2 separate regions of the Homo sapiens genome follow, and region 2 is linked to region 1. The links come from fine-mapping of genetic effects on plasma protein levels. Region 1 holds a variant in brackets. A gene starts in the other region. All regions are shown on their forward strands.

Region 1 (8,330 bases):
TAGAGGCTTCATGTCCTTCTTGAAGCAGGACAGGACTGGGGCAAGGAGAGAGGTGAGAGATTAAGTTCCAAGTGTGGAGAACAGTGTGTAGAGGAAATGTATGAAGACGTTCAGTAGGACGCTGTGTAGACTGTGCTCACTGAAGGAAGGTTGTAAACATGGGGAATGGCAAGTGAGTTTAGACTGGAAATTGTGGATGAGAAGATTCCTGGAGATTTTCTAGACACAGCTTCACATCTTAAGGATGAGGGCTTAAGAATAGAAGGGGGTGAGTGGAAATGAAACTGCCAAGCACACTTTTCTTTGTGCTTCCATGCCCTGTAGGGATTCAGAGCCTCACAGGGGAAGCCCTACAATGAGACAGGGATGCTATGTCTTGGGATAATCACATTGTGAAAACATGGCCCACCTCTGACTTATTCTTTATCGTTCGATCACATGAGTGGATTCTTTAAAATGCCTAGTAGGTCTTCAGTGTACATACAGAGTTTGTGTTTTCAATAATCATTTCGTGGTCTTATTTGAGGCTGCGAAAATTACCCTGGTTGTCTGGAGACCCTCACATCTCTCCCTGCATTCTCCGTCCCTAGAGTTTGCTGCTTTCATTGGCCACCCTGGACTGCAGTAGCAGAAGCCACATGTGGTGCCCCAGTTGAGGACGATGGGATGCTCCGTCCTCATCTGCCCCCTTCCCTTGGATTGATGGATACTTCTCACCATGTCGGCCGGAATTCTGCTCTACTCTTCTCTGTTGCAAAAGCAATTCCTCTAAATTCACTGGAGGTCTATCTGACCCTTCATACTTCTTGTCCCAATGCCATTTTCTTTACCTAGAATACTGCTCTACCTCTTCTTTTTAATGTATTGAATTTTTCAATATCTTGTATGTTTCAGTTAAAGATATATCATAAACTCTTGTCTTGCCACTACAGGCCAAAATGGCTAGTTCTTCATTAGAAGGTAGTGATGCTTCACAAAGCCATTTTCTACTCATGATATTCTCCTGTTGGTTTAAATGATTTTTATTGATTTTTAAAGCAATGCTGTCACATGGACTAGGCACATGGGTGCTTTATCCCCATAGGTGTCAGGTTTATTCTACGAAGTTTTGTAATAACAATGTAATTTTGTAATAATATGTGATGTTAGATATGACTAATTAATGTAATCATAATGAATTTGCTGATCCTCTACTATTTATTAGGGAGTCGTCTGTGTACTGTGGCCCAACAATGAGTAAAACTTGCAGCTCACCTTCTAGAGTAGGGAGGCAAACATTACAGAAAGCAGGTGAAATGTACAGAATGTAAGATGGTGTGAAACTCTACAGTTTAAAATAAGAGAAGAAGGGGATTGAGGTTTCCAGGGGGAACTAGTTGCAATTTAAAATTGAGAAATCAGCAAAGCCCTCAGTGACAAAGGGAAGTTTTAGCAGAGACTCCAGGATCTGGGGTGCAAGAAAGGTGGACTTCTGGGTGAAGTGCAAAAGCCGTGTGAGGGAGTCAGCCCAGCCCAGCGGACAGTTAGGAGCAGTATGCAGAGTTAAAGCAAGCACCATGTGACTTCAAGTCAGTGGCAGTTATAGGAACCCAAGGAATGTTGTCTGGCCATTGCATTCTCAATCTTAATGTGTGTCCTTCCTTCTCTAAAGAAGAGGTAGAGCTGGGACCATTTATGTGTCAGTCATAGGCTCATCTATAGTCCCTAAGATCTGTATTGAGTTCCCCAGCCATGCAGCATCTCAGTGGGGTGCCTGGATCCCTGAGCTGCCACTTCAGACAGGCAGAGCCTCAGTCTGGGGCCGAGACCTGCTCAGAATCTGCATGAGGTGGACGTGGGGAATGCCTACTCCTTCCTCCTGGGGTCTGGGCATTTGTGGTTGGTGTTGGTGGCTTCCCCATCCATGCAGTGTCTCAGTGGGGTGCCTGGACCTCTGAGCTGCCTCAGCACCCTGCAACAACAAGAAGGCTACGATTTTCCCGGTGAAATGCTTTCCCTCCCTCATCACTTATCCCCTATGAAGCTGTATTTTCCAGGCAGATTCAGTTCTCAGAAGCTTTAAGGCAACACAAGAGAGTGCCTGTTGCAAAGTGCAGTGGAGCATTTGTGTGTGTGCATTTTCTGGGTGTGAAGAAGAGTTTATGGATGTGAAATCCAGGTCTTAGTAGACATGGCTGGAGGGTGCTCTTAATGAGGACATGCCAGTGTAAGCTGCTGTGCTTTCTGTTCCATGCATCCCACCTTTGCTAACAACACATTTCCCTCTTACAGAAAGTTTTTTCCGTGGATCTCATGTAACCCTATGTCTTAAAAGGAAAATGTACAATCTGACATTGTTCAATGAAACTCCAATTCTTTAGCACAGAGGATGGTGGTTTTCCCGGAGAAGTAATGATTTTGTGACTGCATGAACTTTAAGCTGACACCGATTGTTTGCCCAGTACACGGGAGGGAGCTCTTTGAGTGGATCCAGAGAAAATGAGACAGAGTGAAAAGACAGAGCAGTGGATGGGGAGATTGGTGGTGTCATATGGGCCTTCTTTTCAATTAGAGTCTGAAGCCAAAACTCCTGCTTGAAATTCCTAGAATTTGGAATTTTGTTTTGTTTAAAAACTTAGGATTCTGGTAGGTGCATGCCAAGTGTCTTGAGACACAAAGACACATCAAATGTGAAAGAGATGTAAAGACAGAAATCTTGCGATAAGGTATTTATTTAGGATGAGAAAATGAAATTAAGGACAAGGTACAGGAATAACAAGAATTTCTTTTACTCTCAAAGTAAATAATGAGCTTATTTTTCTTGATTCTGCAAGCTCAGCAGCAGCAGATCCGGTATAATCTACCAGGAAGGGCACAGGACCCAAAGCGACGTTGAAAGAAATGGCAAATTCCTCGTCTGCAAATGCACCTCAAGCCTCTCCCTGAGCCTGGGGACACAGGGACAGCATCAGAAATGGATCACCAAGGTCAACAGTGGGTTGTAAAGGGAATCTTGGAGAAGTCACGTGCCAGCTGATGAGTGATGTTGTCTGCATTAGGGCCGGTAGCATGAACAACCTCAGTCAATAGGAATAAATACACAGAGCAGTGCTGGTCACACAGGATTTGAGACTCATTCTCATTTGCTCTCATTTTTGTGCTTCTGCCCCATCACACACACACCTGAACACACTCTTAGGCTTGGCTCTACTTTTAAAAAACCATTCTATAGATACAGTAAAATATTCTCCTTATAATGAAATCTACTTGTTTAGATCCAGAAAGAAGTAGTCAGACTGTCTCTTCATATCTTAAACCTACTGAGTTTCACAGGCATATCTTGGAATCAAGTCTTTCCTTTTTATTTATTTTTTCTAAAGTGAAAGGATTATTAAGAAAGTAAAAGAGTAAAATAATGGCTGCTCTCCATGCAGAGCAGCCTTAAGTCTTTAAAGACAGAAAACCTGTTAGATTTATTGGGCTCTCTCTTCAATTTATAGATGAGAATACCAAGGACCAGAGATGCTAAATGAAGCCACCTAAGTGACATGGACCATTGAGACTCGATTCCAGACTCTCTCTCCCGTCCAACCCTCTAGACTGTGCAGCTCTCTGCATGCCGGCCTGTCTCACCTGAAAGTGGAAGTGCAGCGCTTTCATCCCATGTAAAGGAAACAGACACTTCCTGATCAT[C/G]TGCTCCAGGCTACTCCTGGGCTGCAGCTTCATCAGCTCTTGCCCGAAGTGGCTCCGCCTGAGCCTGCAGGGCCACAAAGAGAACGGTGGCAGTGAGGAGGGCAAGGGTCCTCATGGCTACAGAGACTTGGAGGAGGGAGAGCAGGAGCAGATGTGTGGGGAGAGAGGAGTTAGCCTGGGTTTATAGGTCTGCAGAGAGAAGGCTCAGAGACCAGAAACTTTGAAACTTCTCAGTGAGAGGAGGTGTGCATTTCATCGGGGATTGTGTGGGATCCCTTTGGTCTCAGTGTCCCTCTTTTCCTCCTTTGATCTCTCAGCTTTTATTGTAGTGTGAATCTCTATTCACACTAGAAAGTGTGAGTAGATGGATCAGGTGTTTGGAGAAGATGGTGAAGATGAGGATCCTGGCATGTTTTTCCTGTTTCTCACTTCATTCCATATTTACTTTTTAATAACCAAAAGATAACAGCAGTGCTTTTGTTCAGTAAGTTCAGGGAGCAAATGTGTCATTTTCTGCAGATGGCCCCACTACTTCCTGGAGGTCTACACTCTGGCAGCAGGCATAAATTCCTATCAAGTGAAGAGTCATTTGTTGCAGGCATCAAGGGCGTGACCACCCTCATGAAGTCATGGGGTTAGTAGTCTCTTGTAGGAGCCAGTGTGAAGAGGACCATGACCCTATCACGTGATAGGTGAAATGAACACAGTGACATCGAGGTAAAAAGTTCATCTACATCCAAAAGAAATTTTTCCAGCTCTACTGAGATATGAATAAGAATTAAAAATGGTACAGATCTACTGTATACTGCGTTAGGATTTGATGTTCATATACATGTGGTTTTTTATCATATACTAGGTACACAAATCAACTCAAAATGTTTTGAAGACCCAAACATAGACCTGAAACCATAAAATGATGAGAGGAACATATGAAGATAATGCTTTGACGTTGATGTTGGTAATGATATCTTTGCTATGGCAGCAAAGACACAGGCAATGAAAAGAAAAATAGACAAGTGGGGCTGCATTGAACATTAAAGCATCTGAATGGCAAAAATCAAAAAGACAAACAACTGAGTGAAAAAGTGACCCAGAACATGAGAGAAAATATTTGCAAACCCTAAGTGGTAGAAGGGGTAAATATCCAAATACATAAGTAAGTCAAACAACTCAATAGCAAATAACAAATAACCTGATTGAAAAACAGGCCAAGGAGCAGGATAGGCTCCTCTCAAAATAAAATAATGTTTCAAGGCGCTACTATTGTCTCTGTTAGACACGTCAAGTAGGACACGCGTATTTCGAAGGAAATTTCCTGAGTTTCTCTATTAACTTAGCTGGTAGCCAATGCCCCAGGCAACCACCAGAGGTTCAGAGAGAAATGCACAGCAGGGGATTCACCCACTAGGTCCCTCTGGGGTGGTCCAGGAGTCACAGGTCAGACTGGGGGCACAGGCTCAATGTTGAAACCTCAATGTGAGAGTTTAAGGTCTGTGTTAATTACAGCTCCTGAAGTTAGGCAGAGTGACCAGAGAGGGCAGACAGCAGTCCTCTGTCCCTGGTCTCCTGTAGCAAGAGCAGCCGTGCACAAACAGGAGGGGACTTCCCTATTTAAGGGTGATTTGGGATCAGGTATCCTAATATCCTGGGTTACTTTCTGTTGGGTACATTAAATAACTCTGGTGGCAAGGGCAGTTGAGAAATTTGGAGGGACGCTGTGGTGTAGACATGAGTCCACAGAGAACCCCGCATCTAACTCGGTCAGCCCTGGCCAGGCCCAGGCAGCAACCAATGATAGATTCCATGACTCCTAAGACAATGGACCCCGAGATGCCTGTGCTGATGGCTCAGGCTGAGGTAATTGCACCCAGGGAATACTTAAAGCCCCCAGGAGAGCCTGGCCTGCATATCACAGGATACACTCTGTTAGGGAGACAAGTTACGACAGACACCCATGCACAGGAGAGGATGAGGAATCTTGCCTGAACCAGCCTCCCAAGTACCTGTGCTCTAACCGTAACAACACATCAAAGCCGATTGGCTGGGTTGGGATGTTGCAGACCACCTGGTTGAGACTGAATCCCACGTCGGCTTGTGTTACCAGGCAGGGCAGGTTTTGTTGGGTTTGTTAAGGATGTGCACACAGCATGTGGTTCCCGGGAGCGGACAATTGCCTCGTTGCTTGGGCAATGGACAGTTTAAGGCTAAACGAGTGTCTAGGACCACTGGCGCCAAGGACTCCTGAGTTTCCTGCTTGAGATCTAATGTCTTTTGGAAGTCTCTCAGGGAGGCGGCCAAGGTGGAAGCAAGATGGGTGTTAGCTTACATCACCTGGTGCTGTGTTCTCAAATACCTTGCTCTTAAGTCAATTCTGGGCAGGCTTAAGAGCCTCCATACACACGGCGTGAGTGGGAAGATCACTGGTCACTCGAGATATGCAGGATTGAGCTCCTGTGGTCCCTCCTGTGTTATTTCAGGAGAAGTCCTAGGAAAACTAGAGCACATTTTAAAATGTACCACTATCCACCCTCCTCCTCCTTCTCATAGTGAGGTAGATGTGATAAGGTTTCTGGAAATGAGAAAAGAAAGCAGTCACTCGAGAGGCAGTAAATACCTATGGTGAGGTTGCTGAACCCAGTGTACAGGCCAGACAGCCCCTGCTGCCATGGGAAGGTCATGCACAGCGCTGGTCCCACAGGCTGGGTGCTCAGGGCCTCCCCTGCAGCTCTGTGTGCAGGCAGCAGGCATCGGCCGGTGGAGGCCTGGGGGCAGTGGAGTGAGAACTAAAGCATCTCCCTCAACCTTAAGGTAGAGGAGGCATCTCAAGCCTTGCTAGGGGCGGTCACTGTGGCAGAGCAGTGGGGTCTCCTGTCCCTCTGAGGAAGCAGTGAATTCCTGATGTGTGGCAGGCCCAGGAACTTCAGCTTTGGAGGAAGTGAGCACCAGTCTCACCCCAGCATAAGAAGAAATTTGGGCTCTTTGGGGAAACTGAGGCTCTGGTGACAGTTTTAGCTTCCAGGGCATTAGTAGGTGCCTGTAGGGTCGCAATGATGAGGTTATAGGGACTAAATATGAAGGGGTGTATATGAGCGAGAGGAAGATCTCTGGGTTCTGGAAATGTCCCATGTCCTGCGGAAGTGAAACCTGGACCTGCTTCCTGCACACAGAGCACACTCCAGTCCACAGGCATTTCCGCAGCACTGCATGAGCGTTATCACTGGAGAGCTGGTGAGATTCGGGCGTGGTATTCTTACACACAGTTCTCCCAAGTCCATAGTTTTCCGTAGCTTGTAGGGCAGCTTTACAATCTCACTGAGGCTCTATGGGTTCCTTGCACCATAAAGTAATGGGCTTATTCTGAAAGCAAATGGTGATCTCAGCAAAATTCCACTCTAATGAGGTCATTTTTGGGGTAATCAGCAAAGCATGAGGTCAGGGAAGCAGCAAGTCAAGGGTTTGGGTACTGGCCATGAGCCAGCACCGTGTACTGGAGATGGCAAGGTCCGTGTTTGTAGCAGTAAGGAAAGGCTGGTTGGTGGTGATCTCGTGGTCAAAGTGATTTTCCTCTACAAGGGACTTAAACAAATAAGTAAGCAAAAAAGAAATGACCCCTTTAAAATGCGTGCCAGGGCATGAACAGATACTTCTCAAAAAAAAGACATACAAGAGGCCAAGAAACATGAAAAAATGCTCCACATTACTGATCATTAGAGAAATGCAAAATAAAACCTCAAAGGGATACCAGCTCACACTAGTCAGAATGGCTGTTATTGAAAAGTTAAAAAATACTGATATTGGCAAGACTGCAGAGAAAGAGAACGCTTATACACTGTTGAGGGGAATGTTAATGAGTTCAGCCATAGTGGAAAGCAGTTTAGAGATTTCGCAAATAACTTAAAATAGAACCAGCATTCAACCAAGGAATCTCACTACTGGGTATATATCCAAAGGAAAACAAATTATTCTGCCAAAAAGACACATGTACTCGTATGTTCATGGCAGCATCATTCATGCTAACAAAGACATGGAGTCAACCTAGATGGCCATCAGTGTTGGACTGGATGAAGAAAATGTGGTACATATACATGATGGGATACTACATTCATAAAAGAGAATGAAATTATGTCATCTGCAGCGAGTTGGATTCAGTGAGAAGGTGCCGTCTATGAATCACAAAACTGGTCCTCACCAGACACCAAGTGTGTTGGCACCTTGTTTTGGACTTCTCAGCCTCGAGAACACCAAGACATATATTTCTGTTGTTTCTAAGTCACTTGGTGTATGGTATTTTTTTCCAGCACTCCACATACACTCAGATTGCTTGTGTCTTTGAAGCCCGGATACCATGCTTGGAGGAAGTCTAAGTGTTGCAAATCCTGCTAGCTATGAGTGGGATACAAAGTGTCACACCAATCTCCTCCTTCATGAACCGGCATGATCTGACGTCAGTGCCTCACAGGGTCTCACCCCTGAGCCCTGTCAGAGCTGCAGCTGAGCCAGCACCCCCTGCCACCTGTTCACAAGTGTCTTGGGCCTGAGGTTTTCAGATCCCAGCAGCACTTCTCCTCTGATGCCTGTGGAGAGAGCCACCTCCCAATTGCAAATGTGTGAATGAAGACCTGATCATGTTGTTTTAATCCATTAAGTCTTGTGGTGTC
Region 2 (8,330 bases), not on the chromosome of region 1:
GGCCTGGCCATGGAGGGCACGTTGCTTGGCTGAGGGGCCTGGGCTTGAGTGTGGGGCCTGGGCTTGAGTGATGGGAGAGTTCCGAGCAGGCCGGAGGGGTTGAGCGTACCAGACGCTGCTCAAAACTTTTATTTAAAAATGATTATTATTATTATTACTATTATTTTGAGATGGACTCTTGCTCTGTCGCCCAGGCTGGAGTGCAATCGTGCGATTTCAGCTCACTGCAACCTCCCACCTCCTGGGTTCAAGTGATTCTCCCTCCTCAGCCTCCCGAGTAGTTGGGATTATAGGCGCCTGCCACCACGACGGGCTAATTTTTGTATTTTTAGTAGAAAGAGGATCTCCCCATGTTGGTCAGGCTGGTGTTGATCTCCTGACCTCAGCTGATCTGCTGCCTCAGCCTCCCAAAGTACTGGGATGACAGGGGAGCCACGGAGCCCAGCCTTTTTTTTTTTTTTTGGGAGACGGAGTTGCACTCTGTCGTCTAGGCTGGAGTGCAGTGGCGCGATCTCGGCTCACTGCAAGCTCCACCTCCCGGGTTCACGCCATTCTCCTGCCTCAGCCTCCCGAGTAGCTGGGACCGCAGGCGCCCAGGACTATGCCCGGGTAATTCTTTTGTATTTTTAGTAGAGACGGTGTTTCACCGTGTTAGCCAGGATGGTCTTGATCTCCTGACCTCGTGATCCGCCCGTCTTGGCCTCCCAAAGTGCTGGGATTACAGGCGTGAGCCACCGCGCCCAGCTTTTTTTTTTTTTTTTTAATAGAGAGAGGGTCTCACCATGTTGCCAAGGCTGGTCTCAAACTCCTGGGCTCAAGTGATCCTCCCACCTCGGCCTCCCAAGGCACTGGGATTACAGGCGTGAGCCACCACGCCCGGCCTCAAAAACTTTTCAGAATATGAACCCCACTCCATGCTCAGCACTGTTCTGTCTAGAAGGCAGAGTCTATCCCTGTCTCAGGGCACACTGACGTGCAGACAGCGAGCTCGCCCTGAGGTCATGCGACTGGGAGGGACAGAGCTTCCGGCTCCCGGCAGAGGGGAAATGGGGCCTGGCCCACGGGAGAGCTGAGGCCCACGTTTGGCCAGGACAGGGTGGATGGAGGCTGGGGCCTCCGCAGGGAAGATGGACAGGTAGGATCCGGGGTGGGCAGAGAGGGAGAGCTGGCTTGGACGGAGGCAGGGATCTGGGGGCTGTGCCATGGACCCTGTGAGGTGGCTGGGCTGTGAAACTCAGTGGAGACCGGAATTATTATTATTATTATTATTTTTTTGAGATGGAGTCTCACTGTCTCCCGGGCTGGAGTGCAGTGGCACGATCTCGGCTCACTGCAAGCTCCGCCTCCTGGGTTCACGCCATTCTCCTGCCTCAGCCTCCTGAGTAGCTGGGACTACAGGCGCCCACCACCACGCCCGGCTAATTTTTTGTATCTTTAGTAGAGATGGGGTTTCACCGTGTTAGCCAGGAAGGTCTTGATCTCCTGACCTCATGATCCGCCCGCCTCGGCCTCCCAAAGTGCTGAGATTACAGGTGTGAGCCACCGCTCCCGGCCTGGAGACCAGATTTGAGCCCTGGGACCCTACATTCCCGATGGGCAGCGGACCTCAAGGCACACCGGCCCCGCCTCCCTGGACTCTCCCCGTATCCGCCCCTTGGAGGGGCAAACTGCCCTCAGAGGGCTCCCACAGGCCCAGACACAAACTGGTGTCCCCAAGGGTGTGGGGGACACGGTAAGCTCCAGACCTCAGTTTCACCTTGGAAATGAGCCCCTTTGTAAAAAATGGAGGTGAGTTTGGACGCAGTAGCTCACACCTGTGCTCCCAGCACTTTGGGAGGCCGAGGCAGGTGGATTGCTTGAGCTTAGGAGTTTCAAACCAGCCCGAGCAACATAGTGAGACTCCACCTCTACAAAAAAATACAAAAATTAGCCGGGCATGGTGGCATGTGCCTATGGTCCCAGCTACCTGGGAGGCTGAGGCAGGAGGATTGCTGGAACCCGGGAATCGGAGGCTGCAGCGAGCTGAGATCGTGCCACTGCACTCCACCCTGGGCAACATAGTGAGATCCCATCTCTACAAAATATACAAAAATTAGCCGGGCACGGTGGCGGGTGCCTGTGGTCCCAGCTACTCGGGAGGCTGAGGCAGGAGGATCAGTTGAACCCAGGAGATTGAGGCTGCAGTGAGCTGAGATGGTGCCGCTGCCCTCCAGCCTGGGCAACAGCGAGACCTCAACTCTGAAAAAAACAAAAGAAGGAGATGAAATTTACATAACTTAAAATTAGCCATTTTGAACGGTACAGTGAAGTGGTTTTCGGTGCATTCACCGACTTGTGCAACCATCACTGCTGTCCAGTCCCAGAACATTCCATCACCCCAAAGAAGGAAGCCCCATCTCCATCCATCAGCCATCACCCCCTGCCCTCCCCCGGCCCCTGGCAACCACAGATCCACTTCCTGCCTCTGCAGATTTGCTTGTTCTGGACATTTCGTCTATTTATTTTTATATAGTTTTTAATTTGTTTTTATTTATTTTTTTTGAGACGGAGTCTCTCTGTGTCACCCAGGCTGGAGTGCAGTGGCGCAATCTCGGCTCACTGCAACCTCCACCTCCCAGGTTCAAGCGATTATCCTGTCTCAGCTTCCCAAGTAGCTGGGACTATAGGCGCCCGCCACCACGCCCAGCTAATTTCTTTTTTTTTTTTGAAATGGAGTTTTGCTCTTGTCGCCCAGGCTGGAGTGCAATGGTGCGATCTCGGCTCGCTGCAACCTCCGCCTCCCAGGTTCAAGTGATTCTCCTGCCTCAGCCTCCTGAGTAGCTGGGATTACAGGCATGTGCCACCACGCCCAGTTAATTTTGTATTTTTAGTAGAGATGGGGTTTCTCCATGTTGGTCAGGCTGGTCTTGAACGCCCAACCTCAGGTGATCTGCCTGCCTCGGCCTCCCAGAGTGCTAGGATTACAGGTGTGAGCCACCGCACCCAGCTTGTCAATTATATCTCAATAAAGCTGTTGAAAAAGTTTAAAAAAATCACCCAATCGGGCACAGTGTTTCACACCTGTAATCCCAGCATTTTGGGAGGCCGAGGTGGGTGGATCACCTGAGGTCGGGAGTTTGAGACCAGCCTGGCCAATATAGTGAAACCCCATCTCTACTAAAAATACAAAAAATTAGCCAGGCGTGGTGGTGGACAACTGTAATCCTAGCTACTCAGGAGGCTGAGACAGGAGAATCACTTGAGCCTGGGAGGCGGAGGTTGCAGTGAGTCGAGATCACACCATTGCACTCCAGCCTGGGCAACAAGAGCGAAACTCCGTCTCAAAATAATAATAATAATAATAATAATAATAATCACCCATACAGACGCGCAGGACTCAACGCAGGACTGCCAGCTCCACTGCCCTGAGCCCCCCGGTGCCAGGCCCAGCGGGCAGTGCTGGAGCCCCAGTGGCTTGGGATGGGGAGACTGGGACTCTGAGCTGGCAATGTTCCTGGGTGCTGGCTGCATGCCCGCCATGTGCTGGGCTCCGGGATCCACTGGTTCCTGACACCCTCACCTGCCCCTGGGGGTGTGGCCATCTTCTAGAGAGGGAAACTGAGGATCAGTGCAGAATGTAGGGGGAGCCCAGGCTGGCCCAGGGAGCAGTTGGCGGTGGAGGCCTTGGGCAATTTCCCGTGTTCCCACTGAGTGGGGCTGTCCCTGGGCCTGGGCGGGGACGCCACCAACTGCCAAGGCCTGTGTATAAGGGCAGCCGCCGCCTTAGCCACAGACCTGCCCCGCCATGACCCGGCTGACAGTCCTGGCCCTGCTGGCTGGTCTGCTGGCGTCCTCGAGGGCCGGTGAGTGCCTCTCTGTGCCGGTGGTCCCCCATCTGTGCTAGGGCCCGGCTGCCAGGGCAGAACTCAGACTTAAAGCACAGAGAAGGCAAGCGGCTTGGCCTGGGTCACACAGCCAGCCCGGCCTGGACGATCCCGCGAAAGGCGTGAGGGCGGACGGTGTGCGGGACTCAGGGGCCCCCTGTCCTCTTAGGGAGTGGGACGATGGGGGAGGGTGGGTCCCCCCGCAGCCCCACTGGGTGGATAGAGCTGAGGCTGCAGCTTCACACGCCCTCCCGGCCACTGTGTGGATTCTTGGGGATCTCAGAGCTGTCTCCCCCCGACCCAGGCTCCAGCCCCCTTTTGGACATCGTTGGCGGCCGGAAGGCGAGGCCCCGCCAGTTCCCGTTCCTGGCCTCCATTCAGAATCAAGGCAGGCACTTCTGCGGGGGTGCCCTGATCCATGCCCGCTTCGTGATGACCGCGGCCAGCTGCTTCCAAAGCCAGTGAGGGGTCCTGGGGAGGGGGCCTAGGGGGCATTGGGGCTCAGAGAAGGGGCTTGGGGGGCTTAGGCATTCAGTGGGGGTGCTTGGTAGGTGAGGAGGGGAGGGGATTGCAAAAGGAGGGGCTCAGGGAAAGGAGGGGGCTTGGAGAGGGAAATGGGGACTGAGTTGAGGAGGGACCCAAGGATATTGGGGGGCTCAGATGGAGGAGGCCCAGAGAAGGGAAGGGGGTCAGATGGAGGAGGCCCAGAGAAAGGAAGAGGCTCAGATGGAGGAGGTGCAGTGAAGGAAAGGGGGTCAGATGGGGGAGGCCCAGAGAAGGGAAGGGGCTCAGATGGAGGAGGGGGCCCAGAGAAAGGAAGGGGCTCAGATGGAGGAGGTGCAGAGAAGGGAAGGGGGTCAGATGGGGGAGGCCCAGAGAAGGGAAGGGGCTCAGATGGAGGAGGTGCAGAGAAGGGAAGGGGCTCAGATGGAGGAGGTGCAGAGAAGAGAAGGGCCTCAGATGGAGGAGGTGCAGAGAAGGGAAGGGCCTCAGATGGAGGAGGTGCGGAGAAGGGAAGGGGGTCAGATGGAGGAGGTGCAGAGAAGGGAAGGGGGTCAGATGGGGGAGGCCCAGGGAAGGGAAGGGGCTCAGATGGAGGAGGGGCAGAGAAGGGAAGGGGGTCAGATGGGGGAGGCCCAGGGAAGGGAAGGGGCTCAGATGGGGGAGGCGCAGAGAAGGGAAGGGGGTCAGATGGAGGAGGTGCAGAGAAGGGAAGGGGGTCAGATGGGGGAGGCCCAGATAAGGGAATGGGGTCAGATGGGGGAGGTGCAGAGAAGGGAAGGGGGTCAGATGGGGGAGGCCCAGATAAGGGAAGGGGCTCAGATGGAGGAGGTGCAGAGAAGGGGAGGGGGTCAGATGGAGGAGGCTCAGAGAAGGGAAGGGACTCAGATGGAGGAGGGGGCGCAGAGAAGAGAAGGGGCTCAGATGGAGGAGGAGGCGCAGAGAAGGGAAGGGGCTCAAGATGGGAAGGGGGCCCTGGAAAGTCTCGGCTCTGCTTCTGTAAAAGCGGGGGAGTTTTCAGGGTGAAGGATTGCAGTCTGCAGGCTGGGATCCCCCCTAATTTGCAAGCCGGCTTGCTCTGTGCCCAGGCCCCAGCCTGGTGTCCTCCCTCTGCCCTTTCCTCCGCTACTCTCAGGAACCCCGGGGTTAGCACCGTGGTGCTGGGTGCCTATGACCTGAGGCGGCGGGAGAGGCAGTCCCGCCAGACGTTTTCCATCAGCAGCATGAGCGAGAATGGCTACGACCCCCAGCAGAACCTGAACGACCTGATGCTGCTTCAGGTGAGAGGATGGTGCCACCTGTGATCCCAGCACCTCGGGAGGCCGACGTTAGCCAGGGAAACAAGTCCAAACTTGGTCTCTACAAAAAAATACAAAAATTAGCCGGGAGTGGTGGCGCGCACCTGTGGCCCCTGTGCTTCAGGAGGCCGAGGCGGAAGGACGGCTTGAGGTCAGGAGTTCGAGACCAGCCTGGGCAACATGGCCAAACTCAGTCTCTACAAAAATATATATGTGTGTGTGTGTGTGTGTGTGTGTGTGTGTGTGTGTGTATCTTGCCGGGTGAGGTGGCTCATGCCTGTAATCCCAGCATTTTGGGAGGCCGAGGTGGGCGGATCACGAGGTCAGGAGATTGAGACCAGCCTGGCCAACATGGTGAAACCCCATCTCTACTAAAAATACAAAAATTAGCCAGGCATGGCAGCGGGCGCCTCTAGTCCCAGCTACTCAGGAGGCTGAGGCAGGAGAATCGCTTGAACCCGGGAGGCGGAGCTTGCAGTGAGCCGAGATCGCGCCCCTGCACTCCAGCCTGGGTAACAGAGCCAGACCCTATCTCAAAAAAAACTTCCAAAAACAATACAGCAACACATACAGATGTACCACGGTTCGCGTATGGAGCCTCCTGTTGGTGGAGACTGACGTCGTTTTCAAATGCTTTTGCTATGACAGAATCATGTGAATGTTTTTCATGTTTGGTTTTTTTCTTTGAGAAAATGATAAAATTATCTCAAAAATATCATTAAAAAATTTAAAAAAGTAGAGACGGGGGTTTCACCTTGTTGGCCAGTTTGGTCTCGAACTCCTGGCCTCAAGTGATCCACCCACCTTGGCCTCGCAACGTGCTGGGAATACAGGCGTGAGCCACCGCACCCGGCCCCTGCCGGGAATTAAACGCAAACCACTTACAGACTACAGTTAATGTCGCTGACACTTCTGCTCCCAGGGGTCCCCATGAGGCTCCAGTCCCCAGGGCCACCCTCCCCTGACTCCATTTCCTTCCCCAGCTGGACCGTGAGGCCAACCTCACCAGCAGCGTGACGATACTGCCACTGCCTCTGCAGAACGCCACGGTGGAAGCCGGCACCAGATGCCAGGTGGCCGGCTGGGGGAGCCAGCGCAGTGGGGGGCGTCTCTCCCGTTTTCCCAGGTTTGTCAACGTGACTGTGACCCCCGAGGACCAGTGTCGCCCCAACAACGTGTGCACCGGTGTGCTCACCCGCCGCGGTGGCATCTGCAATGTGAGTGCTCCCTGTGGCGGGAGGAGGGGTCCTGAGAGGTACTGAGCTCTCCGTGGCAGGAGAAAGCAAGTGCAGGCTGAGGGCGGCACAGCAGGGGGGCCCCAGGATTGAGCATTTTCACGGTAGGAGAAACAGTATCTTTTTTTTTTTTTTTGAGACAGAGTCTCGCTCTGTCGCCCAGGCTGGAGTGTAGTGGCGTGATCTCGGCGGCTCACTGCAACCTCCGCCTCCTGGGTTCAAGCGATTCTCCTGCCTCAGCCTCCTAAGTAGCTGGGATTACAGGCATGCGCCACCACGCCCGGCTAATTTTGTATTTTTAGTAGAGACAGGGTTTCTCCATGTGGGTCAGGCTGGTCTCGAACTCCTGACCTCATGATCGACCCACCTTGGCCTCCCAAAGTGTTAGGATAACAGGCATGAGCCACCGTGCCTGGCTGAGAAACAGTAGCTATCAAACGCCGGCTGTGAGCCACGTCTGTGCTGGGGGTTGGGGACCCAGCAGGCATGGTAGAGCCGGTCACTGAGGGACTCAGGCGTGTGATTGCCAGGGGAGGGGCACCTGGCCCAGCCTGGAGGTGCCAGGAAGCTCCAGAAAGCAACTGATCCCAAAGTCCACTAGCAGTTAACCAGGGCAGAGAAAGAGAAGAGCCATGCAAAGGCCCTGGGGCTGGATCAGGACTTGTAGGTTCCAGGGGCAGCAAGAGGCCTCTGCAGTTCTGGGGTGGCGTGGGAGCCAGGCCCTGGGACGCCCTGACACAGCTGCTGCCTGCCCAGGGGGACGGGGGCACCCCCCTCGTCTGCGAGGGCCTGGCCCACGGCGTGGCCTCCTTTTCCCTGGGGCCCTGTGGCCGAGGCCCTGACTTCTTCACCCGAGTGGCGCTCTTCCGAGACTGGATCGATGGTGTTCTCAACAACCCGGGACCGGGGCCAGCCTAGGGGGGCCTGTGACCTCCCATGGAGCCCAGCCCCGCCCTCCACACCTCCGGCGCTCCGCACCCACCTCCCACGGCCCCGCCCCTGCCCCCGCTCCGGCCAGAGGGGCCCTGGCTGTAATAAAGAAGCCGATCTCTCCTCTGCTCCTGGTTTCTGTTCATTGGTGGGGGAGGGGGCTGTGGGGACGCGTGAGTGGCACCTTCACCGGCCTTAGGGGCACCCACCGCAGGTGCACTGCCTGTGCAGATGTCAGATGTTCAGAGATTCCCTCAAAGCCCGGGAAGCAGGGGCTGGTGTTATCTGCACCCGACAGCGGGGTGTTGGGGGGAGGCCCAGGTTCAGAGAGGTTGGGTGGCTGCCCAGAGGTCACACAGTGAATGCCGCCCAGCACTTTGGGAGGCCGAGGTGGGCGGATCACCTGAGGTCAGGAGTTCAAGACCAGCCCGGCCAACCTGGTGAAACCCCATCTCTATAAAAATACAAAAATTAGCCGGGCATGATGGCGGGCGCCTGTAATC

Which allele goes with the higher level. Alleles are on the strand shown, and positions count from the first base shown. The strength of an association depends on the size of the effect and on how common the allele is.
In carriers of allele G in region 1, the plasma level of the protein whose gene starts at base 3,775 in region 2 tends to be lower than with C alone (weak association).

The links. PIP is the chance, under the fine-mapping model, that this variant and not a neighbour inherited with it causes the effect. Protein levels are from antibody-based Olink assays in UK Biobank. Linkage for the fine-mapping came from a reference panel and not from the study's own genotypes, which makes the PIPs less certain.
Region 2: AZU1 starts here. The variant in region 1 is fine-mapped to the plasma level of the AZU1 protein (UK Biobank, PIP 0.99).

Annotation. Positions count from the first base shown.
Region 1 is chr8:6,965,327-6,973,656 of GRCh38, forward strand. It overlaps the pseudogene DEFA10P. Among named protein-coding and RNA genes, the nearest start is that of DEFA1, 11 kb to the right of the region's middle. RefSeq lists enhancers at 5,868-6,368, 6,369-6,869. The variant C/G (reference allele first, on the strand shown) is at 3,673.
Region 2 is chr19:824,063-832,392 of GRCh38, forward strand. It overlaps AZU1 (azurocidin 1), which reads left to right and starts at 3,775. Exons shown (of 5, transcript NM_001700.5): 1 at 3,775-3,842; 2 at 4,168-4,324; 3 at 5,500-5,644; 4 at 6,646-6,879; 5 at 7,654-7,956. The coding sequence starts at 3,785. The coding sequence ends at 7,815.